Linked DNA regions of Homo sapiens. The protein of the gene in region 1 purifies or fractionates together with the protein of each later gene. This does not show direct contact. Each region holds a gene or a part of one and is shown on either strand. Other genes may lie near its edges. The genes, in order: NEU2, TFAP4, PEX14, KLHL24, TBC1D4, KIAA1671 and NOSIP.

What was found.
Region 2: the proteins of NEU2 (region 1) and TFAP4 purify together in Homo sapiens (affinity purification with mass spectrometry; 3 studies listed by BioGRID and IntAct, with this or other methods). This does not show direct contact.
Region 3: the proteins of NEU2 (region 1) and PEX14 purify together in Homo sapiens (affinity purification with mass spectrometry; 3 studies listed by BioGRID and IntAct, with this or other methods). This does not show direct contact.
Region 4: the proteins of NEU2 (region 1) and KLHL24 purify together in Homo sapiens (affinity purification with mass spectrometry; one large-scale study listed by BioGRID and IntAct). This does not show direct contact.
Region 5: the proteins of NEU2 (region 1) and TBC1D4 purify together in Homo sapiens (affinity purification with mass spectrometry; one large-scale study listed by BioGRID and IntAct). This does not show direct contact.
Region 6: the proteins of NEU2 (region 1) and KIAA1671 purify together in Homo sapiens (affinity purification with mass spectrometry; 3 studies listed by BioGRID and IntAct, with this or other methods). This does not show direct contact.
Region 7: the proteins of NEU2 (region 1) and NOSIP purify together in Homo sapiens (affinity purification with mass spectrometry; 3 studies listed by BioGRID and IntAct, with this or other methods). This does not show direct contact.

Annotation. Positions count from the first base shown.
Region 1 is NC_000002.12:233,031,192-233,035,471, forward strand, and holds NEU2 (sialidase-2), read left to right. Parts: upstream 1-1,480; coding exon 1,481-1,681; intron 1,682-2,924; coding exon 2,925-3,866; downstream 3,867-4,280. UniProt on the Homo sapiens protein: Exo-alpha-sialidase that catalyzes the hydrolytic cleavage of the terminal sialic acid (N-acetylneuraminic acid, Neu5Ac) of a glycan moiety in the catabolism of glycolipids, glycoproteins and oligosacharides.
Region 2 is NC_000016.10:4,266,524-4,270,023, reverse strand, and holds part of TFAP4 (transcription factor AP-4), read left to right. Parts: intron 1-1,819; exon of another isoform or gene 1,820-1,976; intron 1,977-3,093; exon of another isoform or gene 3,094-3,500.
Region 3 is NC_000001.11:10,481,450-10,484,949, reverse strand, and holds part of PEX14 (peroxisomal membrane protein PEX14), read right to left. Parts: intron 458-3,500; exon of another isoform or gene 1-457. UniProt on the Homo sapiens protein: Component of the PEX13-PEX14 docking complex, a translocon channel that specifically mediates the import of peroxisomal cargo proteins bound to PEX5 receptor.
Region 4 is NC_000003.12:183,634,131-183,638,422, reverse strand, and holds the start of KLHL24 (kelch-like protein 24), read right to left. Parts: upstream 2,801-4,292; 5' UTR 2,630-2,800; exon of another isoform or gene 2,112-2,629; intron 1,889-2,111; exon of another isoform or gene 1,814-1,888; intron 1-1,813. UniProt on the Homo sapiens protein: Necessary to maintain the balance between intermediate filament stability and degradation, a process that is essential for skin integrity.
Region 5 is NC_000013.11:75,360,170-75,363,669, forward strand, and holds part of TBC1D4 (TBC1 domain family member 4), read right to left. Parts: intron 2,439-3,500; coding exon 1,857-2,438; intron 1-1,856.
Region 6 is NC_000022.11:24,955,716-24,959,215, forward strand, and holds part of KIAA1671 (uncharacterized protein KIAA1671), read left to right. Parts: intron 1-3,500.
Region 7 is NC_000019.10:49,556,557-49,560,056, forward strand, and holds part of NOSIP (nitric oxide synthase-interacting protein), read right to left. Parts: intron 3,484-3,500; coding exon 3,378-3,483; intron 3,349-3,377; exon of another isoform or gene 2,879-3,348; intron 2,794-2,878; exon of another isoform or gene 2,423-2,793; coding exon 2,341-2,422; intron 694-2,340; coding exon 534-693; coding exon of another isoform or gene 525-533; intron 438-524; coding exon 319-437; intron 181-318; coding exon 1-180. UniProt on the Homo sapiens protein: E3 ubiquitin-protein ligase that is essential for proper development of the forebrain, the eye, and the face. Catalyzes monoubiquitination of serine/threonine-protein phosphatase 2A (PP2A) catalytic subunit PPP2CA/PPP2CB.

The DNA.
Region 1 (4,280 bases):
CTTGTTATCATATTTGATTCTTTCCTGCTGACATTTTCTAACAGCGTTTCAGCATAGGCCTCCCGATACCTATCAAGGCCTGTGTCCTTGGATTATAATTTGGTGATTCTATCACCAAGCCATGAATCTCCCACCGAAGTTCAGGGAATAGCACATTTTTTCCTTGTGCAGCTTTTGCCCTTCTCAGTTTTATTTTCTCACATCGTCCTAATATTAACGTTCACTGTGGTTGAATGAAAGACTGATAGATTACATTTATTTCTCAAAGAAGCTAAGTTTTAAATAGATAACGCATGCATGTGGTAGAAAAATGAGAGCAGTACAAAAGGGTGCACAAAGGCAAACCTTGCCCCTCTTGCTGGCCTCTTGCCCACTTGCCCTCTGCAAAGGCTGTGTCTCAGACGGGGTGCCCAGGACGCCGGCTCTGACACGGAGACCCACGGCAGGCAAGAGCCTCTGGGGGAAAGGGAGGAGCAGCAGAGAAAGAGGCGGCTGTAATGCAGTCTCAGGGAAGGCCCAGCCGCCCGGAGGGAGCTCCGGAGCCGCACTGTTCCTGGTCAGGAGTTCAGGAAGAGGGTCTTCAGGCTCTGAGTGGACCAATCATCAAGCAGCCCTTCTTGGGTATGACCTGGGGCAGATTCTTCATCTGGGAACAACTGGCCCATCCTCCCCAGGCCAGGGCCCTGCAGCCAACACTCCCCAGAGCTGCGGGATGCATCCTCCTAAAGGGACCTAGGCAGCTTAGCCCGAAAATCACTGTCACCCACTGTCCCCAAGTTACCTCTGTCCCCTCCCTACCCTTTTTAGCTGAAGACTTATTTTTAATTGTTATTTTCTTAGACCTCTGGAGCACCCCACGCCCCCAGCCTGGGTTAGCTGTCAGGAGCCCCTGTCTCTTCCTTTCCCACTGCAGCGCCGCCCCCTCGCTGCCTCAGGGGGAGCCCACGCAGCAGCGGGGGCAGACGGGCCTCAGCCTCAGGCAGCCTGGGGAGCAGAGCCTTAGAAGCCATGCTTTTTCTTTTTCCTTTTCTTTGAAACAACTTTCTAGGGCTCTGGAGTTATAAAAAGCTCCCATGTGTCACTTTCTGGCATTTGGGCAGCTGCCGAATGCCACCCGGCCTGCACTGCTGTCCTCCCGAGGTTTGCCCCTGGATTGATGGGCTGGGTTTGGCAAAAGCAGCTGGAGGTTATCGAAAATCTGTTGTAAGGAGCATTGTTAACTTAGAATAAAAATCGAATCCAAAACACGCTTTTGCAATACCCCCTCCCGATATCCACCGAGGCAAAGGCAGAATTAAGAAGCAGGGTCTTGAGATGTAGGAAAGGAGAATGAACCCCACGCGGGAAGAGGACAGGCCGCCCTGACTTTGGTCCACTCAGCCAGGGGGTGAGCACCACCTGTCTTGGTGAATGACTCTGAGCCCATCTCAGGTGTGGCTGCAGGTGACACATCTTCTCTTCCTGTCCACCCCCCAGCCCCATGGCGTCCCTTCCTGTCCTGCAGAAGGAGAGCGTGTTCCAGTCGGGAGCCCATGCCTACAGAATCCCTGCCCTGCTCTACCTGCCTGGGCAGCAGTCCCTGCTGGCCTTCGCGGAACAGCGGGCAAGCAAGAAGGATGAGCACGCAGAGCTGATTGTCCTGCGCAGAGGAGACTACGACGCACCCACCCACCAGGTTCAGGTGAGGCAGGAGGTGTCTGCACTGGCTCCCCAGGGCTCTGCCACACCCTTTGCTGCTGTGATCAGGGGCCAGTCCTGGATCTCAAGAAATACAGGGACAACTTTATCCCTCAATGGCTGTACTCCGGAGGAGAGATAGAGCAGAGAAAGTGCCCCTAATGGTTCCCTGGACCTCTGGGTTCACTGTGAATTAGTCCAGCTGGCCTCCATCTGTTTTCATGAAAGATTGAATGAGTTGCCCAGCATCCGTGATGACCTCACGGAGGAATAGTTCAGTGTTGCATAATGGAGGGTTGTGTCCTTTGAGTAAAATTAACTTGGGGACTTGGGGTGGGGTGATGGCTTGTGTCCTAAAGTCCCATTTTATAGATTAAATAATTAATCCTGATGACAGCACCCAAGGCTGGCTGATCATATTTGAAGAGTTTAATATTATTATCATTCCTTTGTGGTCATTACTACACAGCTGTTCAAAGCATGGGATTTGAAGCAGATGGACCTGGGTTCAAGTCCTGGTTCCGCCACTGACCACAGATGTGGCCTAGGCAACTCCTCCTCCCTGTCGCGGTCTCTTGCTCACTGTAATAATGGAGCTACTAACACCTGTTCCCTGGGGATTGAGGCATTAGATGAGACCATGGATGTTAGACTTTTGGTGCTGTGTCTGTGCTTAGAATTGCCCAATGGGGGTAGCTGTTAATAAATGGGGACAGACAGCACATGTGACATAGACTTGGGGATTCTGGAAGCTCAATGTGACTCCTCCTTGGCTACATGAGTAGGATATGGAGTGTAGAAGGTGAGAGGTGACCGTCACATTCTGTCTTGTACTGGTCAGGTTATTGCACCTTCCGCCAGGGCTTTGCTATTCAAGGATGGTGAGCTGGACTGGGGTGGGAAGTGGAGGAACCAGGATGAAGTTGGGAATGGCTCATGCACGAGTCATCTTCATATCTTGTGGTCTGGCAGGTGGGTGTTCTGTAAATGCATATTGATGGCAATGGAAGGAACAGAATCACTCAGCCGAGTGTGGCTGCCTTGGAGGGGTGAGGTGGCACCCTGGGCCCCGCAGCTCTGGGGAAACGTTGCAAGGAGGATATGAGTGTTGGGTGAAGAGTTCTTCTCGATGACTTTTGACTCTAACCCGGGAGACACACCCGTGCCCACCCCTCCCACTCATGCAGCTCCTGGCACCATCCCCAGCTGTTTCAAGGCTGCCTTCTTCTTTCTCTCTCCCTACTCAGTGGCAAGCTCAGGAGGTGGTGGCCCAGGCCCGGCTGGATGGCCACCGGTCCATGAACCCATGCCCCTTGTATGACGCGCAGACGGGGACCCTCTTCCTCTTCTTCATTGCCATCCCTGGGCAAGTCACGGAGCAACAGCAGCTGCAGACCAGGGCCAATGTGACGCGGCTGTGCCAAGTCACCAGCACTGACCACGGGAGGACCTGGAGCTCCCCCAGAGACCTCACTGATGCGGCCATCGGCCCAGCCTACCGGGAGTGGTCCACCTTTGCAGTGGGCCCGGGGCATTGTTTGCAGCTTCACGACAGGGCCCGGAGCCTGGTGGTGCCCGCCTACGCCTACCGGAAACTTCACCCCATCCAAAGGCCGATCCCCTCTGCCTTCTGCTTCCTCAGCCATGACCATGGGCGCACGTGGGCGCGAGGGCACTTTGTGGCCCAGGACACCCTGGAGTGCCAGGTGGCCGAAGTCGAGACTGGGGAGCAGAGGGTGGTGACCCTCAACGCGAGAAGCCACCTCCGAGCCAGGGTCCAGGCCCAGAGCACCAATGACGGGCTTGATTTCCAGGAGTCTCAGCTGGTGAAGAAGCTGGTGGAGCCGCCGCCCCAGGGCTGCCAGGGGAGCGTCATCAGCTTCCCCAGCCCCCGCTCGGGGCCTGGCTCCCCAGCCCAGTGGCTGCTCTACACTCACCCCACACACTCCTGGCAGAGGGCCGACCTGGGTGCCTACCTCAACCCGCGACCTCCAGCCCCTGAGGCCTGGTCAGAGCCGGTACTGCTGGCCAAGGGCAGCTGTGCCTACTCAGACCTCCAGAGCATGGGCACCGGCCCTGATGGGTCCCCCTTGTTTGGGTGTCTGTACGAAGCCAATGATTACGAGGAGATTGTCTTTCTCATGTTCACCCTGAAGCAAGCCTTCCCAGCTGAGTACCTGCCTCAGTGAGCCTGTGGTGCCCACCTCAAGGGCCTGCCTTTCACCTGCACACCCAGCTCGGAGGCTCTGCGGCTGCCTCTCCTTCCCGTGGCCCCTGGACGTGGGGGCCACTCTGGGCTCCCTTCGGCGCCCGTGTGTGGAGAGAGGTGCACCTCTTGCTCTTTTCCTCCTGCGTGGTTCCAGTCTTCCCAAAAGGTTCTATTTTCAGCCCAGAAACCAAAAGTGTCTGGCTTCCCATAGCCCCTCCATAGGGAAGGCGTGGAGGGTCCTGCAGCGCAGCTGTCACCTTGTCTGCCTGTCCCCTACCCCCAGCTTTGTGTAGGTCTTGACAAATTTCTAGTTCAACTCCTTCCTTCTTGGGAACCATTCCTTATGTTCCTGGGGAAGAACTGAGATGGAAGACCATGGTGTAAATTAGCAGAG
Region 2 (3,500 bases), on another chromosome or scaffold:
TAGTAGAGATGGGGTTTCACCATAGTGGTTGGCCAGGCTGGTCTCGAACCCCTGACCTCAGGTGATCTGCCCACCTTGGCCTCCCAAAGTACTAGGATTACAGGCATGAGCAACTGCGCCCAGCCACTGAGTCTTAAAAGCAGGTATATGGGCAGGTATATGGTAGTCTCCATCCATATCTTGTGTTTTGTTTGTTTGTTTGTTTGTTTGTTTTGAGATGGACTCTCACTCTGTCGCACAGGCTGGAGTGCAGTGGCGCAATCTCGGCTCACTGCAACTTCTGCCTCCGGGGTTCAAGCAATTTTCCTGCCTCAGCCTCCTAAGTAACTGGGACTACAGGCCCGCTCCACCATGGCCGGCTAATTTTTGTATTTTTAGTACAGACGGGGTTTCACCATTTTGGCCAGGATGGTCTCGATCTCCTGATCTTATGATCTGCCCGCCTCGTCCTCCCAAAGTGCTGTGATTTCAGACGTGAGCCACCGTGCCCGGACTCTCCATCTGTATCTTTTTTTTTTTTTTTTTTTTTTTGAGGCAGAGTCTCGCTCTGTCGCCCAGGCTGGAGTGCAGTGGTGCAATCTCGGCTCACTGCAAGCTCGGCCTCCCGGGTTCACGCCATTCTCCTGCCTCAGCCTCCCGAGTAGCTGGGACTACAGGCGCCCACCACCACGCCCGGCTAATTTTTTGTATTTTAATTAGAGACAGGCTTTCACTGTGTTAGCCAGGATGGTCTCGATCTCCTGACCTCGTGATCTGCCCACCTCGGCCTCCCAAAGTGTTGGGATTACAGGCGTGAGCCACCGCGCCTGGCCTCTGTCTGTATCATAAAGCTCCTAGGCCTGGCTCGGTGGCTCAAGCCTGTAATCCCAGTGCTTTGGAAGGCCAAGGGGAAAAAATCATTTGAGCCCAGGAGTTCGAGACCAGCCTGGGCAACATAGCAAGACCCCACCTCTACAAAAAATAAAAAAATTAGCCCGGCATGGTGGCATGTGCCTGTAGTCTCAGCTCCTTGGGAGGCTGAGGCAGGAGGATGGCTTGAGCCTGGGAATTGGAGATTGCAGTGAGCTATGATCATAGCACTGCACTCTAGCCTGGGTAACAGAGACCCTGTCTCTTAAAAAAAACAGTAAGACTGGGTGCAGTGGCTCACTCTTGTAACCCTAGCACTTTGGGAGACCAAGGCGGGAGGATCACTTGAGCCCAGGAGTTCGAGACCAGCCTCAGCAACATGACGAAACCCTGTTTCTACTAAAAATACAAAAAACTAGCCGGGTGTGAATGGTGTGCACTTATACTCCCAGTTGCTTGGGAGGCTGAGGAAGGAGGACGACCTGGGCCCAAGAAGTTGAGGCTACAGTAAGCCGAGATCATGCCATTGCACTCCAGCTTGGGTGACGGGAGTGAGACCCTGCCTCTAAATAAATAAATAAAAATAAATTAAAAAAATAATAAAACTTAAAAAGCTCCCATAAGAAGGAGTTCAAGAAAATTGAAGGCTTTGGAGTGTTTATTGGGTCCCTGATTTATTTATGAAGCAACAACATTCTGCCGGGACTGAGGATACAGCCATGAACAGGATGTGACTCCTGTCCTCAGCAGCTCACAGCCTTGTGGTCTTAAAAGGTCTTGTAGACCCCCTAAGAGTTTCATGGGTTGTCCTGGACACCTGGGTGCAAACTAACTCTTGGGCCTCGACCTCCCGAGTAGCTGGGATTACAGGCACGTCCCACGACACCCGGCTAATTTTTGTATTTTTAGTAGAGAGGGGGTTTCACCATCTTGGCCTGGCTGGTCTGAAACTTCTGACCTCAGGTGATCTGCCCACCTTAGCCTCCCAAAGTGCTGGGATTACAGGCATGAGCCACCGTGCCTGGCCTTTCTTGATCTCTTTTAAACTTCACCATGACCCTGTGAAGTGAAGCAGTGTTTCCATATTTTACAGACGGAGGAAACCGAGGCTTGGTGTTGCACAGCTAGTAAGTGGCAAGGCTGGACTTTTTCACTTGAGCCCAGTGCAGGGTTCCCACTGATGGGCTGGAGGAGCTTTGGGGAAGGGAGGGAGGCAGGGATGTTTCTGATGGCAACAGCCTGGGCATGGTGTGTTCTGGGACCGAGGGGAAGGGCAGCAGACTGGCCAGGTCAGAGTACAGAGTATGGGTGAGTAGTGTAGAAGCAGCGGGGATGGAGCATGGATGAGAACCTCGGGCTGATTAGGTTAGAGAAGGATGAGTGCCTTAGTGCTTTTTTGGGTTTGGGAGAATCCCGTGTGGACTTTCCCACGTTGACTGTGTAGATGTTAAGTGACCCTGAGGTATGTGAGTGACTTCAGGGCAGTGTGAAATGAAAGTTCTCAGTGGCCGGTTTGAGGCTGGAGCTGGGCAGGCAGGTGTAGAGGGATTGGGGGTACTTGACTTTGGCCTGGGCAGGAGGGATAGGTACCTGGCAGGGTTCTAGACTTGAAGGGCATGCCCCATGCCTCCAAGTGTCTGGTTGGGACGCCAGCGTCAGTCTCAGCAGATTCTGTGGGTGCTGTGGTGGTAGGTGTGGCGGCTCTTGCCTTAGCATCCAAGGCTGGTGCCCAAATTTTGTTCCTTGGCCATTGGCTGCTCAGTGACCTTATTCCTAAATCTAGGGCAGCCCCTGTTTGGACCCAGGAGGCTGGCTTGCAAGAAGCAAGAGAGCCTTGGTGTGGCTGGGCATGGTGGCTCATGCCTATAATCCCAGCACTTTGGGAGGCCGAGGCGGATGGATCATTTGAGGTCAACAGTTCGAGACCAGCCTGACCAACATGGTGAAACCCCATCTCTACTAAAAATACAAAAATTAGCCGGGCGTGGTGGTGGGTCCCTGTAATCCCAGCTACTCGGGAGGCTGAGGCATGAGAATTGCTTGAACTCGGGAGGTAGAAATTGCAGTGAGCTGAGATTGTGCTACTGCACTCTAGCCTGGGCAACAGAGCGAGACTCCATCTCAACCCCCCCTCCGCCCCCCATAATTAGCCAGGCTTGGTGGATCACGCCTGTAATCCCAGTTATTTGGGAGGCTGAGGCATGAAAATCGCTTGAACCCGGGAGGTAGAGATTGCAGTGAGCCAAGATTGTGCCACTGCACTCCAGCCTGGGCAATAGAGCGAGACTCAGTCAAAAGAAAAAAGAGAACCTCGGTGTTGGTGGACTTGGGTCACCTTTGATTTTCACCTGGAGGAGTCTGAAGTGGCCAGAGAGAGGATAGTGGACCTTTACTGTGTGTGTAGGACGTTTACAGACCTTAACCGTAAATGCAAAACCCCAGAAAGAGCTATCAGAAACTTTCAGGCATTTGCAGAAAAATCCACTTTATTCAGTGCAGTATCACCTGGAAATTTCAATCAACCATCCTTCATCAACAGGAACCCCTGGTTGGTCAGCCATCAGAAGCCCTGGTTGGTCAGCATTCCACCAATAAGAATTCCTGGTTAGCGGCACTCCACCAATCACAACCCCTGGTTAGCTCCTATTCCA
Region 3 (3,500 bases), on another chromosome or scaffold:
CGTGACTGCATTAATGTGGGTGAGATACGTCGTGGTAATGTCCACTTTACTAAGAGACTCTCTCTTCTGCTGGCTTTGAGGAGGCAAGTGGGAAGACTCATTTGGCAAGAAACTGAGGGCGGCCGCTGGCTGACAGTAACACACTAAAGTCTCCAGTCTCATGGTCCATAAGGAACTGAATGCCACCAACAACCACACAAGCTAGGAAGCAGACCCCTCCCTAGTCAGCGACCACAGTCCTGACAGATTTCTCAATAGTAGCCTGGTGAGACTCAGCCCAGTGGTTTCCTGACTCCTGACCCACAGAAACCATGAGATAATCAATGTGTGCTGTGCCAAGCGGCTAAATTTGTGGTAATACTGTTACGCAGGAATCAAAAACTACTACAAATGTCCATCAACTGGTGAACAGATCAACAAATTGAGATATAGCCATCCATACGATGGAATACTACTCAGCGGTAAAAAGTAATTCATGGTCAGGCGCAGTGGCTCACGCCTGTAATCCCAACACATTGGGAGGCCAAGGCAGTTGGATCACATGAGGTCAGGAGTTGGAGACCAGCCTGACCAACACAGTGAAACCCCATCTCTACTAAACAAAAAAAAATTGGCTGGACGCAGTGACTCACACATGTAATCCCAGCACTTTGGGAGGCCGAGGTGGGCAAATCATTTGAGGTCAGGGGTTCAAGACCACTCTGGCCAACATGGTGAAACCTTGTCTCTACTAAAAATTCAAAAAAATTAGCCAATTAGCCGGCCATGGTGGTGGGCGCCTGTAATCCCAGCTACTGGAAGGCTGGGGCAGGGGAATCTCTTGAACCCAGGAGGCAGGGGTTGCAGTGAGCCAAGACTGAGCCACTTCACTTCAACCTGGGCAACAAGAGCGAAATACCATCTCAAAAAAAAAAAAAAAAAGGTAATTCATTACTGATAATTACTGATACATACCATAACACAAATAAATTTCACAAACATTATTCTGAGCCAAAAAAGACATAAAAGAATACATAATTCATTCATATGAAATTCTAGGAGGGACAAATATACTCTATAGTAATAGAAAACAGTTCAGATTTCCTAGGACCACAGGCAAGGATTCAATGGGAAGGGGCGTAAGGGAACGTTTAGGGATACTGAAACTGTTGATCTTGCTTGTGGCAGTGGTGGTTACACAGGTTTAGGGTGGTAGTGGTTACACACGTATATACAATTTGTCAAAACTCAAACTGATCACAACACACCTATTAGAATTCCACAGTAAAGTTTAGGCCATAAGACTTTGTCAGTCAATACAATATTAAACTAAAATACTAAAAAAAAACTTGGCCAGGCCAGGCGCAGTGGCTCACGCCTATAATCCCAGCACTTTGGGGGGCCGAGGCGGGTGGATCATGAGGTCAGGAGATTGAGACCATCCTGGCCAACATAGTGAAACCCCGTCTCTACTGAAATATAAAAAGTTAGCCAGGCATGGTGGTGCACACCTGCAGTCCCAGCTACTCCGGAGGCTGAGGGGGGAGAATCGCTTGAACCTGGGAAGTGGAGATTGCAGTAAGCCGAGATCATACCACTGCACTCCACCCTGGAGACAGAGCAAGACTCCATCTCAAGAAAGAAAAAAAGAAAAACTTGGCCATGTTCACACCTGTAATCCTAGCACTTTGGGAGGCCAAGGCAGGAGGATCACTTGAGCCCAGGAGGTCACGACTGCAGCGAGCCATGACTGTGCCACTGCACTCCAGCCAGGGTGACAGAGTGAGACCCTGTCTCAAAAATTTAAAACAATACTAGCAAAGTTGCAAAGAAAGCAACTAATTTAGCAAGTTAACTTTATGATGGAGAAATGTGATAGACACCACCTTAACCAAACAATCAAACTTCATCTTCGACAATGGGACTCGTTCCTCCAGATATGATACACAGATAGACACAACGTCACTTACATAATATTCTCACAAAAGAATGTTTAACCCGGATCTAAATGTAAGGGAACAAATCAGACAAATCCAGATGGTGGAACATTTCACAAAACAAGTAGTCCAGACTCTCCAAACATGTCAATACCATAAAAAATAAAAAACGTAGATGAACTCACCAGAAATGCACATATTATGTTCACAAAAAGACACGTACAGGTATTTTCACAGCAGTACTATTTGTAATGACCCTAAAGGTGAAACAATCTAATGTCCATTAAAAGTAGAATGGCTCAGGCCAGGCACGGTGGCTCATGCTTGTAATCCCAGCACTTTGGGAGGCCAAGGCAGGTGGATCATGAGGTCAAGACATCGAGACCATCCTGGCCAACATGAAGAAACCCCATCTCTACTAAAAATACAAAAATTAGCCGGGCATGGTGGCACATGCCTGTAGTCCCAGCTACTTGGGAGGCTGAGGCAGAAGAATCACCTGAACCCGGGAGACGGAGGTTGCAGTGAGCTGAGATTGCGCCACTGCACTCCAGCCGGTGACAGAGCGAGACTCCATTTCAAAAAAAAAAAAAAAAGTAAGATGGGCCACCCGCAGGGGCTCACGCCTATAATCCCACCACTTTGGGAGGCCAAGGTAGGTGGATCACTTGAGGTCAGGAGTTCGAGACCAGCCCGGCCAACATGGTGAATCCCCCGTCTCTACTAAAAACACAAAAATTAGCCAGGCATGGTGGCCAGTGCCTATAATCCCAGTTACTCAGGAGGCTGAGGCAGAAGAATCACTTGAACCTGGGAGGCAGAGGTTGCAGTGAGCCAAGATCATGCCACTGCACTCCAGCCTGGGTGATAGAGCAAGACTCAGTCTCAAAAAACAAAAAGTAGAATGGTGGCCAGATGTGGTCACTCACACTGGTAATCTCAGCACTTTGGGAGGCCCAGACGGGCAGACTGGTTGAGCTCAGGAGTTCAAGACCAGCCTGGGCAACATGGCAAAACCCCGTCTCTACAAAAAATACAAAAATAATTAGCCAGGTGTGGTGGCATGCGCCTGTGGTCCCAGCTACCAGGGGAGCTGAGGTAGGAGGATGGCTTGAGCCTGGGAAGCAGTTTGCAGTGAGCCGAAATCGTACCACTGCACTCCAGCCTGGGCAACAGAGCCAGGCATTGTCTCAAAAAAAAAAAAAAAAAAGAGTAGAATGGTTAATAATAAATGGCCAAACACATTCATACAATAACTGTATAAAGCAGTGATAATAAACTGTCACTGTTCTCATCATGAATGAATCTCAAAAATATGTGTTAAGTAAAAGAAGCCTGGGAGACTGAGGTGGGAGGCTCACTTGAGGTCAGGAGTTCAAGACCAGCCTGGGCGACACAGCGAGACCCGACCTCTACAAAAAATAATTAGCTGGGCATCATAGTGCATGACTATAGTCCCAGCTACTCGGGAGGCTGAGGCTGGAGGATCACTTGAACCCAGGAGGTCAAGGCTACAGTGAGCTGTGATAACACCTCTCCACTCCAGACTGGGTGACAGAGTAAGACCCTGTCTCAAAAAACAAA
Region 4 (4,292 bases), on another chromosome or scaffold:
TTGATTAATAGTATTTATTTTTCACAGGCTTGACCTTTGGGTTTTAATGAAATGGGAGAAAAGGAAGTTAAAAAAAGTTATTGAAAAAGCATTAAGGTTCAACAACTTGGACAAAAGCCAGGAAAGTTTAAGTTAAAGCTGGTAGTCAGCCTTAACGCAGAATTTATTTCTTCTTCCTGTTTAGAGACTTAGGTTGCTGGCTTTGTTTGAATAAGCAAGCCTTTACTGAGTGATGGTTTTACTTTTTCAAAAGGTTAGACGATTGCATTTTGTACTCATTTAGATACATTAAATACTCTCAATGCACAAGTGATGAGGCGGTTCTGATCACAGGAGATGCTCATTCCGGTGTAACCATCTCCTCTGGAATTTTAAAGAATGCATAACCAATAGGAACTGTTCATATTCAATTCCTGCTTCATCCAGGGGAGCTCAAACTTCCTTCTACAAAAATGTATTGTCTTTGCCAGGCACGGTGGCTCACGCCTGCAATCCCAGCACTTTGGGAGGCTGAGGCGGGCGGATCACCTGAGGTCAGGAGTTCAAGACTAGCCTGGCCAACATGGTGAAACCCCGTCCCTACTAAACATACAAAAACTAGCCGGGCGTGGTGGCGGGCGCCTGTCATCCCAGCTACTCGGGAAACTAAGGCAGGAGAATCGATTGAACTCGGGAGGCGGAGATTGCAGTGAGCTGAGATGGCCTGGGTGACGGAGTGAGACCACTCCACTCCAGCCTGGGTGACAGAATGTGAGACCCTGTCTCAAAAACAAAACAAGTGTATTAAGTCTTGAGTGAATTCCTATATCTGCAGAAGAAAATCTGACAAAACGCAAATACCCTATTAACTCAAGCGATTAGAAAAACCATTTTCAACACACTATGGCTAAAAATGATTGGTCTTGAAGATTTTATTACCGTCAGCTTAATGTACAATTTTAAAACGACACAGTCGCAACCCACTTCTCAAACATTTTGAATTACCACGGGAATTAAAACATAGAAGTGTGTGACCTAGAATCCCTCAAACAAGGAAAACAACTCATCCGAGCCGAGTATGGAAGAATCTTTACTTTTTAGGGGAGTATCTTCAAACTATCTTTTTTAAATAGTAGAAATCTGCTTTTAAATCTCAGCCAACAACAAGCAGATTTTAAATCTATTTTACAACCCTAATAAAAACCAACCTCTTAGCTGGTGGACCCAGTCTGTAGCTGCAAATACAAAGACGTGATTTTTGAAAAGCTGCCCACAAGAGCAAGTGATTAATCATTAAAATCCACTAAAATCAATTGTGAACAGCCACTGCCTCAGGGGTGACCGTGGGGCCCCCTAAGATGTGGCACTGTGATCTATATTTAGCTATCTAAACACGTTTACAGAACTGGCAACAACGTGTTCGCAGGACTTCCTGCGAACCACCCGGCAGATAACGCGACACTAGTTAAAGGGTGTTAATTTTCCGGTCCTCGGAGGGCAGGCCACGGTAGCCGATCTCTGCGTGCCCAGAACTGCCTGCAGGATCAGGCAGCAGCAGCGGCGGCGGCGGCCACCGAGGCTACCAGCCGCCCGCAGCAGGGGCGGGAGCGCGCGCCTCCCGCACCCGCGCCACCCGGCTCCACTCGGGCCGCAGCTGCAAAAGCAGCGACAGCGCGCGCTCCCGCGCGTCCTCCAGATCACCTTCAAGGGGGCGGGAAGAATGGCCCAGGGCAGGCCCACCTAGTGACAATAAAAACTCGCCAATAAAAACTCGAACTCTCCCTCGGGTACCGCCCACAAGCTGCCGCAGGCGCCCAATCCCCGCCGCGTTAACAGTCTTCACCCGGGGTGTCCAGAACTTGAGGGCGGGTCCATTAGGAACTAAATTAAGAAACTGAGTCCTGGAGTGGTAAGAAGGTGGGGAGGTTAGGCGGGGACTGCGCCGGCGGAACGCCCGCTCCCCCGCCCGCCCCGGCTCCCCGGGGACGGCCGCAGCGGGCCGGGTGTCGCGATCGTGGTAAACAAAGGCTCGCAGGGGACGGGGGCGGGGGTAACGGTCAGGTGACAGTGCCGAGTGCATTTCGCAATCGCTTTAATGGGGCTTCACGGGCCCGCGGCCCTGGGGACCCCACCTTGACCCCGTCATTCCTCCCGGACAGAACCGACGGTCGTCCCACCAAACAAGAAGGCTGGATTTGAGGCGGTCGCACTCCCCCGGGCTTCCTGAAATAAAAAGCAGCGCCCCGTTCGCAGCCCATCGGCAACAAGCAGCACCCGTCTGCCCAGCCGCCTCCCCCGGCGGCGCCCGGCCCCGCGGCGACTAGCCTACCGCACCTGCGGCTACCCCCAGTCCCGGCAACCACCCCGCCCTAGCCAGGCCGCACCAGCCGCGCCGCGGTTCCGGGCCGTAGTGCCAGGAGGCGCGCGCGCCCTCCCTCAGGGCTGTAGCTACCAAGCGGGGGAGGAAGACCCCCCAGGTGAACCCTGGAGGCCCCTCGCCTCAGAAAGGGGCCCTGTAGCCCAGCTGCAGCCTCTCCGCAGACCGCCAGTCTGGCTCTGAGAGGCCGGCCGCCGCTGGCTGCCCTCCCGCAGACACCCCGGTGGTCAGGACCGCCGTCGCCCCTCCGCCCCCGAGGACTCAGACTCTGACCGGTTCCTCGCCTTTCGGCCGGTCCCGGAGCTGTCACCCCCGGTACCTCTCGGCGAACACTGGAAGCAGCCAGCAGTGGCTAACCCCGCGGTCCCTCAGCGGCGGGCGGCGCAGCGCACTCTCCAGCGCCGGCGTCTCCTCCAGCCACCAGTCTCTGCCGCAGCTCACAACAAAGGAAACATGTGACCGTCCGGGCCAAAACACTGAGCGTCAGCGAACCCTGGCCAATCCGGGTGGGCGTCCTCCGCCCCGGGGAACCCTGGGAGATGTAGTTCACGCTTCCCGGTGGCCTCCGGGGCCACCTGGGGCTCCCGCCGTGGGGTGGGTGTCGGGTGCCCAAGAGGACGAGACCCACCCAAAGGGCTGCTGACTCAAAAACACCTTGTTTTAAGCAGAGACAGTTAAAAAAATGCCTCTTGTGTAAGGAGCCGAGTGAGAAGCCAGAGTCGTTTCTTTCCTTCCCTCAAAGGCCCCTGCCACGTCCCAAGGAAAAAGCCCGCGATCAGCCCTTCGACTTTAAAGCTTGGGTCGAAGCTTAGAGAGCTTTTTATTTGACCCTTTGATAGACAATCGGAAATCAGGCCTGAGGGCCTGCAGGGTGGACGAGACTAAAACCCCAGTCCTTAGAAGGAGCAAGGAAAACCACCTCTTTTTTTTTGATAAAGCTGTTACTGTCCCTGGTATCAAATCCTAGGTTACCTTTTTATTTTAAACGCACATGCACGTCGACCAAAGCTGTCACAAATCCCTGTTTTCCAAGGTAGATGGAGTTCCTAAAGGACATTGTGTTGTCGTTTTGTGTCTGCAAGCTTTTTGTTTTGTTTCGTTTTGAGACAGAGTTTCGCTCTGCCACTCAGGGTGGAGTGCAGTGGCGCAATCTCGGCCCACTGCAACCTCTGCCTCCCGGGTTCAGGCGATTCTCCCGCCTTAGCCTCCCGAGTAGCTGAGACTACAGGTGCCCGCCACCACGCCCAGGTAATGTTTTGTATTTTTAGTAGAGGCTGTGTTAGCCAGGCTGGTCTCGAACTTCTGGCCTCAAGTGATCCGCCTGCCTTGGCCTCCCACAGTGCTAGGATTACAGGCATGAGCCACTGCGCCCCGCCTGCAGGTATTCTTTTAAAGGATGATTGCAACCATTTAACTAGTTTTTGGTTTCTGATACCAAATTTAAAAATCTCTATCTTCTACATGTCATGAATACCGTCATGCCTCTATTAAATTAGGCGTTGTGTTCTGATGACCAGAGGCGGAAATAATATGGAAGGCCTATATACAGGCCTTTTAAACATACTTTTTAGGCCTCTTTTCCATCTCTTATTCAATTATTTGAGCTATTTCTTCTGGTATTTATATATTTCCAAATAATGTATGACTATTTCCTATTAAGGAAGCTATCCTTCTCATAATCTGGTTAAATCATTAATGTTTACGCTAATGAGACCATGTATTTATTATTCATTGTTGAGACAAATCGTATACAATTTCCCATCTTGTATGGCTTTTGGTTTTCCTTGGAGTTTTAATAATTATCCTCTTTCTTTGCTTATTTTATTATGGATCTATCACAATGTCCTCTTAGTTTTTCTAAAACGATAAAATGCTTTCAATACAACTCCATATAATCAAACCCATCAGATAATCCATCGTGTGTGTATGTGTGTGT
Region 5 (3,500 bases), on another chromosome or scaffold:
TTCTAAAAATAGTAATTTTAAAAAATAAGTTATAATCATACTTTCTTCTAAATGGTCAGCAAAAGGATGTATCTGTAATTGGGCTAATGAATTAAAATCTTTGAAAATAACCCATTCAGAAAAATTAACAACAAGGACTGTGACTAACTAAAAAAAGAACAAATCTGATAACCCCAAGAAAAGGGGAAATTCAGTTAATACATCACCAAAGACTAGAGAGGCTTTAATGACATACCTTGAGTTCATTAAAAACAAAACCACCACCAACAAAAAAGAAAAAATATGAACTTCCAGGGGTCAAGGCTGTAGTGAGCTGTGATCACACTGCTGCACTCCAGCCTGGATGACAGAGCGAGACCCTGTCTCTTAATTTTTTTTTTTTAATCAGGGGTGTGTTTTTTTTTAATCAAGTAGTAATATATTCAATGCTACTTCTTGCCATCATTTTCAATTGTTGAAATGGGCATACTGAGCTCAGAAAGCAAATCTGATGCCTTCATGATATGGAGCCACATTTGTGTTCTGTGTGGGATTACTTCTGCAGGAGAACATCACATTTTCTCCTTAAGGCAAAATGTTTGTAAGTGTTGCCTCTTTACTCTGAATTTACTTTTGAAGCTGTACTTGTTCACCTACGAGTGTTTATGAAATCCTGCATTTGGGATGCTTTTTCTATAATAAAATATTATCATTTGTGAAAAAAAGCCTCATGAACTTCCGATAAAGCAAACTTCTGATATTACACACCGGTACTATTTACCAAAATACTCCGGAATCTCCTTCTTAGGAAATCTTTAAAATAGGTTTAAAAAAGACAGTCACTCTTTTCTTTCCCCCCAAGGAAACTCAAATCTCACAAGCTGAGAATTAAAGACTCTCTACAGAGTATTGTTAGGAATTAAGTTATTTTAAGCGGAACCTGACACCTTCTATACCCTGTACAACATTCAAAAATGTTTAGAATTAAGAATGATCTTTTATACCAATACTACAGCTTGCATCAAATTATTTTAGTATCCAATTCAGTACATTTTTAGGCCAATGATGTTTCTTTAACGTCTTTTGGTGTGACAGCATAAATTGGTGTGTCCTCGACTCAAAATACAAATACAAGTCTCTGGAGTTTTTTCTTCTCTAGAAAAAAAGTCCCTTGTTTCTCCATGCCAAATCGCACTCTCTCAGATTCATATCTTTAAAGATTTACTTTCTACAATTTTTTTGTTGTTGTTGAGATGGAGTCTCGCTCTGTCGCCCAGGCTCGAGTGCAGGGGGTCAATCTCAGCTCACTACAACCTCCGACTCCCCAGTTCAAGCAATTCTCCCGCCTCAGCACCTGATTAGCTGGGATTACAGGCACGCCCCCACCACATCCGGCTAATTTTTGTTTTTTAATAGAGACGGGGTTTTGCCATGTTGGCCAGGCTGATCTGGAACTCCTGACCTCAAGTAATCCGCGTACCTTGGCCTCCCAAGGTGCCGGAATTACAGGCGTGAGCCCCCGCGCCGGGCCTACAATTTTTTTTTAAGCATTTATTTGAGAATCACCCCAAGGCAAATGCTGGTTATAGATTCTTATTCTCTCTACCAGGTGTCCAGGACGTTCTACGAATTGCTTCCTCCTCCTCTTCCTTCCCTACTCCCTTAATTCTTATACTCCACACTCCACGTCTGCCTCTCCCCCCTTCCCTACTTTCCTCTGCACTCTTCCTCCACCTGCCTTATCTGCTTTGAAGGGGAAAACAAATAAAAGTTAGATTATTCGTTATATAGAGGTGGAGCTGGGAGGAACTGGATGCCCAGCTACTTCCATCTGGCACCTTTTGGGGCAAGGGCAGACAGCGTCCGATCAGGTGTACCTGGAAGAGCATGGTCCTGTTCTTCTCCGAGTCCGAGGGCTGGACGTGACTGGGTGCGCTCGCGTGTCTCCGTCGCGGCTGGGATTTCTGGCTGCCCTCGTGAACTCTCCGTTGCACGCCGGTGACACTGCTGCACCGAGACCGAAACTCCTGCTGCTCATCAAAGCCAGAATCTTCCAAAATCCGCTCAGGGAAGCAGACCCGAGAGCTGGTCAGGGCAGGCTGGCTGGCCCCGGCAGGTAAGCCAAGGTGGGTGTCGGTGCCGTCAGCCTCCTCCGGCAGGCAGTCTCCGGGGGACCCGGGCACCACCACCTCCAAGTCAGCCAGGTCCTCTCCTGGGTCCGGACCGCGCTGCTCCCCTTGGATCTTCAGGCGCTGCTGTTCGTGCAGGCTGAACTTCTCCATGCAGTCATCGATGAGGCTTGAGGGGGCCTTCTTGTGGGTCACGGTCACCTTTCCACAGTACAGGACTTCGAACTTCTGAGAGTTGTAAAAGGCGTCCTCATTATCTTTGCTGGGTTTGGCATCCTCTTTCATGGCCGCTTTAGATAATTGCCTTATGCTGCTAATAACATCAGGAACCTGGGGGAAAAAATTAAAACCCTGATTCTAGTTGAAAGTTTTGAGACAATTTACATTTACCTAGCCCAATTATTACCACATGGAATGTATTTTCATCCTAAATAATATACAAAGTAATAGACACTACACGAGACAGAGCATACACTTACATTATTTGACATAAATGACTTCAAGATAAAATTAAAATGTAATGAAAATTGAAATTGAATAGCAGGATTATATTTTCCCACTTTAAATGAGTCTCCCAGAAACAAAACCATGAAACTATATAAGCCACTGCCAACCTATTATGTCATAATATGTCTTTTGATTGTGTTTAAAAGTTATTTGTGCCTCAGCTGAAAGGAACCAAAGTTCCAACCATGAGGACAAAATAACCTTTTTTGATGAGGAGATTAAAACCTAGACATCCCTCATCAGCATTAACTATCAGAGAAAATGCAAATTAAAACCACAATAAGATACCACTATATACCTCTTAGAATGGCTAAGATAAAAAGAAGACTGCCAGCAAGGACATGGGAGCAACTGAACTCTCATACATTGTACACAGACATATAAAATGACACACCACTCTAGAGGATGGTTTGGCAGTTTCTTAGGAGTTAAATATAGACCTACTTCATTACCTAGGCATTCCACTCCTAAAAATTAAAAGACTGGAAAACATGTCCACACAAGAGCCTACAAACAAATATTCAAAGGCACTTTTGTCCCAATACCCTGTGAAAGGAAAATATCTTAGGCCCCCAAAATCACTAAGGAAAACTCAAGCTGAAAATTGCTTAGGGCAAACCTACCTCCTATCTATTCAAAGTCACCCCTCTGCTCACTGAGATAGATGCATATCTGATTGCCTCCTTTGGAAAGGTTAATCAGAAACTCAAAAGAATGTAACCATAGCACCTGTTTATGACCTAAAAACTCCCTCCCTGCTTTGAGTCTTCCTGCCTTTGCTTCAAATTGTCCCGCCTTTCCAGACGGATCCAAGGTACTTCTTACATATATTGACTGATGTCTCATGTCTGCCTGAAGTGTATAAAACCAAGCTGTGCCCTAACC
Region 6 (3,500 bases), on another chromosome or scaffold:
GCAGGCTGCTAGAAAAATCCAGGTGAGAGGCCAGGCGCGGTGGCTCACGCCTGTAATCCCAGCACTTTGGGAGGCCAAGGCAGGACGATCACGAGGTCAGGAGATCGAGACCATCCTGGCTAACATGGTGAAACCCCATCTCTACTAAAAATACAAAAAAATTAGCCAGGCATGGGGCAGGTGCCTGTTCTCCTGGCTACTTGGGAGGCTGAGGCAGGAGAATGGCATGAACCGGGGAGGCGGAGCTTGCAGTGAAGCAAGATCATGCCACTGCACTCCAGCCTGGGCGACAGAGTGAGACTCCGTCTCAAAAAAAAAAAAAAAAAAGAAAAGAAAAAAGAAAAATCCTGGTGAGAGACCGCGGTGCGCGGTGGACTGGACGTAGAGACCAATGGTGTTGGAGGGGTGTTCACTGACAACTTTGACATTGATCAGTGTTACATTTAGAGAGCCACTCACTTTGAAGATCCCTTCCTCAAGGTGGGTGTAACAGTCTACCTGGGGTAAGGAAACCCCTCAGAGGGAGTGGTATCAGTACTGAATTCAGTTTAGCAAACCTGCTTTAGAACCCTGTGCCTGTTCAGGGGTAGGTATAAAACATGCCAGTCCTCAAGGACTTCCTGTGGGGAGACATGGGGCACATTATTCCCATTTCACTGATGCAGGCCTCTGTGGCATTGTGAGGCGTTTGCCAGGCAGCAGTGGCAAAGCAGGAATTTGAACTCCCTTCCAACTTGCAACTAGTGAATATTTGGGTTCAGGTTAAGCCGTAGAGAAGCAACAGAGGAAGGTGGGTTTCAGTTGGGTGTGGAAGGGATAAATTGAAGGAGCCTTCCCGGAGGAGGCAGATAGAAGGGAGGGAGCCAGCCAGCCGGGCGTGGTGGCTCACGCCTGTAATCCCAGCACTTTGAGAGGCCGAGGCGGATGGATCACGAGATCAGGAGATCGAGACCATCCTGGCTAACACGGTGAAACCCCGTGTCTACTAAAAATACGAAAACAAAAAATTAGCCGGGCGTGGTGGCGGGTGCCTGTAGTCCCAGCTACCTGGGAGGCTGAGGCAGGAGAATGGCGTGAACTGGCGAGGCGGAGCTTACAGTGAGCCGAGATAGTGCCACTGCACTCCAGCCTGGGCGAGAGAGCGAGACTCTGTCTCAAAAAAAAAAAAAAAAAGAAGGGAGGGAGGGAATCAGCCAGAGATAGTCCAGGGCAAACCCTGGCCCTGCCTGCTCCTGGCTGTGGCCTTGGGCATGGTTATGGTTTTGAGACTCGACTTCCCTATCTGTAAAAAGGGCTCATGATAGGATACTCCCATTCTCAAAAGGTTCTTATGTGAGTTTACTGAAGCAGTGTATGGACAGTGCTAGGCCCCGTGTCTATGCTCTGTAAGGGGTGGTATGATTATTATCACTATAGCCTGTCATCAGGATAAGTTCCAGGTGGGTGGTGCTTTGCTCAACCTGGTGTGTGCCTGTGTGTGTTGGGGGGAGAGAGGGAGTGACCCACAGGTGATACTTGAGTCTTAAAGGATGAGTAGGAGGGAGGGCTGGGACATTCCAGGCAGAAGCAACAGCACTGGCAAAGGCATAGATCGCCTGGAGAACTGCATGCCAACTGATATACCCAGAATTCAGGATGTGCTGAATGAATAAAAGTTAGACCATGGGCAGCAAAAATTCCTTTTATACCCCAGACACTCCCTGAATTTCTAAACCTGAAGGCTTTGGCAGGTTTGGGACAGAGAGGAGGGCAGGAGCATCCCTGTCCAGGAGTTCACTCTCCTTCTTCCACTCACCCATCCAGATTATAGGAGTGTGAACCTAGATAAGCCATGTCCCCCCGGGACCTCAGTTTCTTCCTCTGTAAAATGGGAGGACTGGGGAGAATGTAGGTAAAGCACATAGTGCATCAGAGCTGCGCTGTTATGCCAGAATCTGGGCTAAGCTCTTTTGTTCCTTTTTTTTTTTTTTTTTTTTTTTGAGACGGAGTTTTGCTCTTATTGCCCATGCTGGAGTGCAATGGCAGGATCTCGGCTTACTGCAGCCTCCACCTCCTGGGTTCAAGTGATTCTCCTATCTCAGCCTCCCGAGTAGCTGGGATTACAGGCATGTGCCACCACGCCTGGCTAATTTTGTTATTTTTATTAGAGACAGGGTTTCTCCATGTTGGTCAGGCTGGTCTCGAACTCTCGACCTCATGTGATCCACCCACCTCGGCCTCCCAAAGTGCTGGGATTACAGGCACCCGGCCTTTTTTTTTTTTTTTTTTTTTAATATTTTACAACAAACCCAGGTGGTGCCTGTTTTTGAGACCCTCGACTTTACAGTTCATGAAACTGAGGCTTCAAGAGGTTATTGATGTGCTGCGAGGTCACGCAGCGGGAAAGTGGAAGAGCTGGGATTTGAACCCAAAGCTGTCTGCCTCAAAGCCATGCCCTTCCCACTTGCATGGCTCCCAACACAAGGAGGGGTGCTTCTGCCTAGTCTCACTACTCAAACTGCTGCCATTTAAGAAGAAGCTAAGGCCAAGCACAGTGGCTCCTGTCTGTAATCCCAGCGCTTTGGGAGGCTGAGATGGGAGTATTGCTTGAGCCCAGGAGTTTGAGACCAGCCTGGGCAACATAGCGAGACTGTCTCTGAAAAAACAATTTAAGACCGGGTGAGGTGGCTCACGCCTGTAATCTCAGCACTTTGGGAGGCTGAGGTGGGCGGATCACCTGAGGTCAGGAGTTCGAGAGCAGCCTGGCCAACATGGTGAAACCCCGTCTCTACTAAAAATACAAAAATCAGCCAGGCGTGGTGGTGGGGCACCTGTAATCCCAGCTACTCGGGAGGCTGAGGCAGGAGAATCCCTTGAACCCCGGAGGTGGAGGGTGTGGTGACCTGAGATCATGCCATTGCAATCCAGCCTGGGTGACAGAGCAAGACTCTGTCTCTTAAAAAAAAAAAAAAAAAGGTTAAAAATTAGTCTGGCGGTCAGGCACAGTGGCTCACACCTGTAATTCCAGCACTTTCGGAGGCAGAGGCAGGTGAATCACCTGAGGTCAGGAGTTCAAGATTAGCCTAGCCAACATGGAAAAACCCTCTCTCTACTGAAAATACAAAACAAAACAAAAAAATAGCCAGGTATGGTGGCACATGCCTGTAATCCCAGCTACTTGGGAGGCTGAGGCAGCAGACTGCTTGAACCTGGGAGGTGGAGGTTGCCCTGAGCCGAGATTGTGCCACTGCACTCCAGCCTGAACGATAGAACAAAACTTCGTATCAAAAAAAAAAAAAAAAAAGAAAAGAAAAGAAAAAAAATTAGCCTGGCAGTGTGTCAGGCTGTGTCCCATCTAATTCAGAGGCTGAGACAGGAGCATTGCTTGAGCTCAGGAGTTCGATGCTGCAGTGAGCTTTGATTGCACCACTGCACTTTAGCCTGAGACAGAGTGAGTCCTTGTCTCAAATAAATAAATACATAAATACATAAAAATTTAAAAAATTAAAATTAAAAATAAA
Region 7 (3,500 bases), on another chromosome or scaffold:
CAGCACAGCGCAGGGGGTGGCGTTGCTCAGGCTGTCGCGGGTCACGGCACACACGTAGCGCTCGCTGCGGGTGATGAGCCCCACGCGGTCCACGGAGCTGTCTAGCGGTGTGAAGTGCACGGGCGTCAGGTCCGACATGCGCAGGGGCTTCCCTGACATGGGGCAGGTCACCGTGCGGGACTGCAAGGGGCAGAGAGAGGCGGGCTCAGTAGGCAGGGCTGGCGCAGGTGGAGAGCGCGTGGTCCCTGTGCGTGAGGAGGACGGTGGGGAACCCTGGCGCCCTGGCACCGTGCGTGCCGGGGCGCTGTGGGGGCTCACCGGCTTCTCCAGCTTGGTGGCCTTGGCTTCGGGCGTCAGCGACGGGATCCAGAAGCTGGGCAGCACTTTGTCCTTGTCCTTACTTGGAGGACCCACACTGGGCCCAGGTTGGACATCATCTGTGGGGGAAGGAAGGGACTCAGATGCCGCCCCCTGGGCCCGCCCAGCCCGCGGCGCCCCGCCCCCCAACCCACAAGAAGCCCAACCTGAGTCACCTGGGCTGGTGCCCGAGAGGGCCTTGGCTGTGAAAGGGTTGAGGGGCCGGCTCACGATAGCCGACTCCTTCTCCAGGAAGCCCCGCACATGGTCCTGCGAGGCCGCCCGCTGAAGCTCCTTCTGCTCCTCGCGCCGGGTGCCCCGCTGCTTCTCGTAGGCCTGCGTCGGGGAAAGTGGGCTGAGCATCTGCCCGTGGGGCTGGGGGTATCTTCCTCCCATTTCACAGGTAGGTAAACTGAGGCCCACAAAGGGGACCCTCTGATGGAGGCACTATGTGGCAGAGGGTGGTAACTGCCACCCTGGGTGGGTGTGAACCTTACTGCGTTGTATAGCCAGACTGCCAGGGCTCAAAGCCCATCTCTGTCACTCTGTGGCCTAAGTGAGCACTATGACCTCTCCTGGCCTCAGTTTCTTCATCTGTAAAACAGCCTAACAGTGGTTACCCACCTCAGCGGCTCACTGAAGGGTTACATAAGGTGAGTGTTTACAGCATGGAGAGCCTCACCTGGCACTCAGCTAAGCATTTAATTAATGTCACCTGCTGGCCAATTAAGTTTTCTATACAGTGCATGCCCCAGCCCGTGTTTGGGACGGGGGATGTAGACTTCAGATCTAAGGGAATGCTGAGGAGCCCATGTCTATGGACGGACAGTGAGTGAGGACGGGAGAAGTGAAGCCATGACCTGAGCTCAGCCCTGCCTGGCGCACAGCAGTTGCCTGGGCGGTGCTGCAGTTCCAGACCACCCTGGGCCACCCAGCTGAGTGAGGAGGTAACAGTGACAGTGATGGATGCTCATGAGGGCCTCCGACATGACCACCAGGCTGTGTGGAGGACATGGGCACAGGGGGAGCCACCTGCTTGGGACAAAAAGCCCAATAAGCATGTGACCTGTAGTGTTTCCTGAGCGCCAGCAACCAGGCAGGGGAAGAGGGGGACAGACCCACTGTGCCTCAAACAGGGCCCCTCCTACCCATCAAATGGCTTTGTCCATGGAAGGCCAGGCCGGGTTCCCAGTAACACGCCTTGAGAATGCTCATCTGCGTGTACCTCCCAGGTGCCCTGCTGTGTCCTCTGATTTGGCCGTCAGCCCGTTTTACAGACGATGAAACTGAGGCCCAGAAAAAATGAGGTGATGTCAATTCACGTAGCACATCTTTTTTTTTTTTTTTTTTTTTGAAACAGAATCTCGCTCGGTTACCCAGGCTGAAGTGCAGCGGTGCCATCTCAGCTCACTGCGACCTCTACCTCATGGGTTCAAGCGATTCTCCTGCCTCAGCTTCCTGAGTAGCTGGGATTACAGGCGCCCGCCATGCCCGGCTCAATTTTTTTTTTTATTTTTTTATTTTTAGTACAGACAGGGTTTCACCATGTTGGCCAGGCTGGCCTCTAACTGTTGACCTCAAGTGATCCGCCTGCCTCGGCCTCCCAAAGTCCTGGGATTACAGGTGTGAGCCACCACCCCCGACCCATTTAGCATATCTTTACTAAGGACCTAAGCTACAGGGTGGGAAAACTCGAAGTCCATAAGGGAAAGTGGGCATGTGTCAGACAGCCACATGTACAGCTACAACTATGCTAAGTGCTAAGAGAAGAGGTGACTGGGGCAGATCCTGGGGACTGGCAGGAGCTCAGAGGAGGCAGCATCTGGGCTGAAATCGGTGAGAAGGATTTGGCCGGAAGCAGGGGAGGGGAATGGTGTACCAGGCAGAGGGAACTGAGATCAGAGGGCTCTGAGTGGCTCTGCCTGTGAGCTCAGACTCAAAAGCTCCTGCCTCCGTGTGCCGCCTCCTCCCCATCCCCATCACCTTCATCTGCCGGGCAATCTCCTTCTTCTGGTGCAGAATGTACTCCAGGATGGCCTCACGCTCATACAGGTAGCCATCTGGGCTGCAAAGACAGGGTGCAATGAGAAAGAAAGAAAGTGATCCTCCCGCCTCGGCCTCCCGAAGTGCTGGGATTATAGGCAGAAGTCATCATGATCAGTCCCAAGTTCAATTATTTGCTAGAATTCACAGAACTCAGCAAAGCTGTTATACTCATGGTGATAGTTTACTGCAGTGAAAGGATGCAGATTAAAATCAGCAAAGGAAAAAGGCACATGGGGCAGAATCTAGTAGAGACTAGATTTGAGCTTCCAGCTGTCCTCTCCCAATAGAGCTGCAGGGAAAGTGCTTCATTCTCTCAGCAACAATGTGTGCCACATATTGTTGCAGCCACGAGTTCGAGACCAGCCTGGGCAACAAAGTGAGCTCCCCTCTCTACAAAAAACAAACAAAAACGCCAGGTGTGGTAGTGCACACCCGTGGTTCCAGCTACTCGTGGGGGCTGAGGCAGGAGGATCACCTGAGCCTGGGATATCAGTGAGCCAAGATGTCCCCATTGCACTCCAGCCTGGGCAACAAAGTGAAGACTCTGTCTCAAAAAAAAAAAAGAAACCTGAAGGTGGCCTTGGGGGCCCTGATCATTAATTACTGTCTTCTACAAAATATACCACTAATTGAGCACGTATTTAGTGCCTGGACTCAGCACCTGTTAAGCCTTTGCCCTACCATCAGAGGTAGGTCATGGGAAGTGTCCAAAGGTGAGCTGCTCCGATGGCCTCGGCAATGCTCTGAGAGCCCTACACCCCATTAGAAGTATGTTCCTTTCCATATGTTCCACACTATGAAACAGATGCTAGGATCATGCCCATGTCCCATGTGAGAATACAGAGGCTCTGAGGATAAACTGCTCATCCAGGGTTCCCTGGCTGTGCAGGTGGCCAGACCCACGCACACAGCCTCCTCCTGGCGGTTCCCTTGCTCTCCCCACCCAGACCTACCCATCCCTGTTCCCAGCTCACGTGACAACAGGATCGTGGCAAGGCTGCAGGGAGAGACAACAGCAGTCGAAGTCCTTCACGGCATCCCGGCTCAGTCGAATGTTCTGGGTCCCATAGCCCGAGGCCGCTGGGGACAGAGATGGG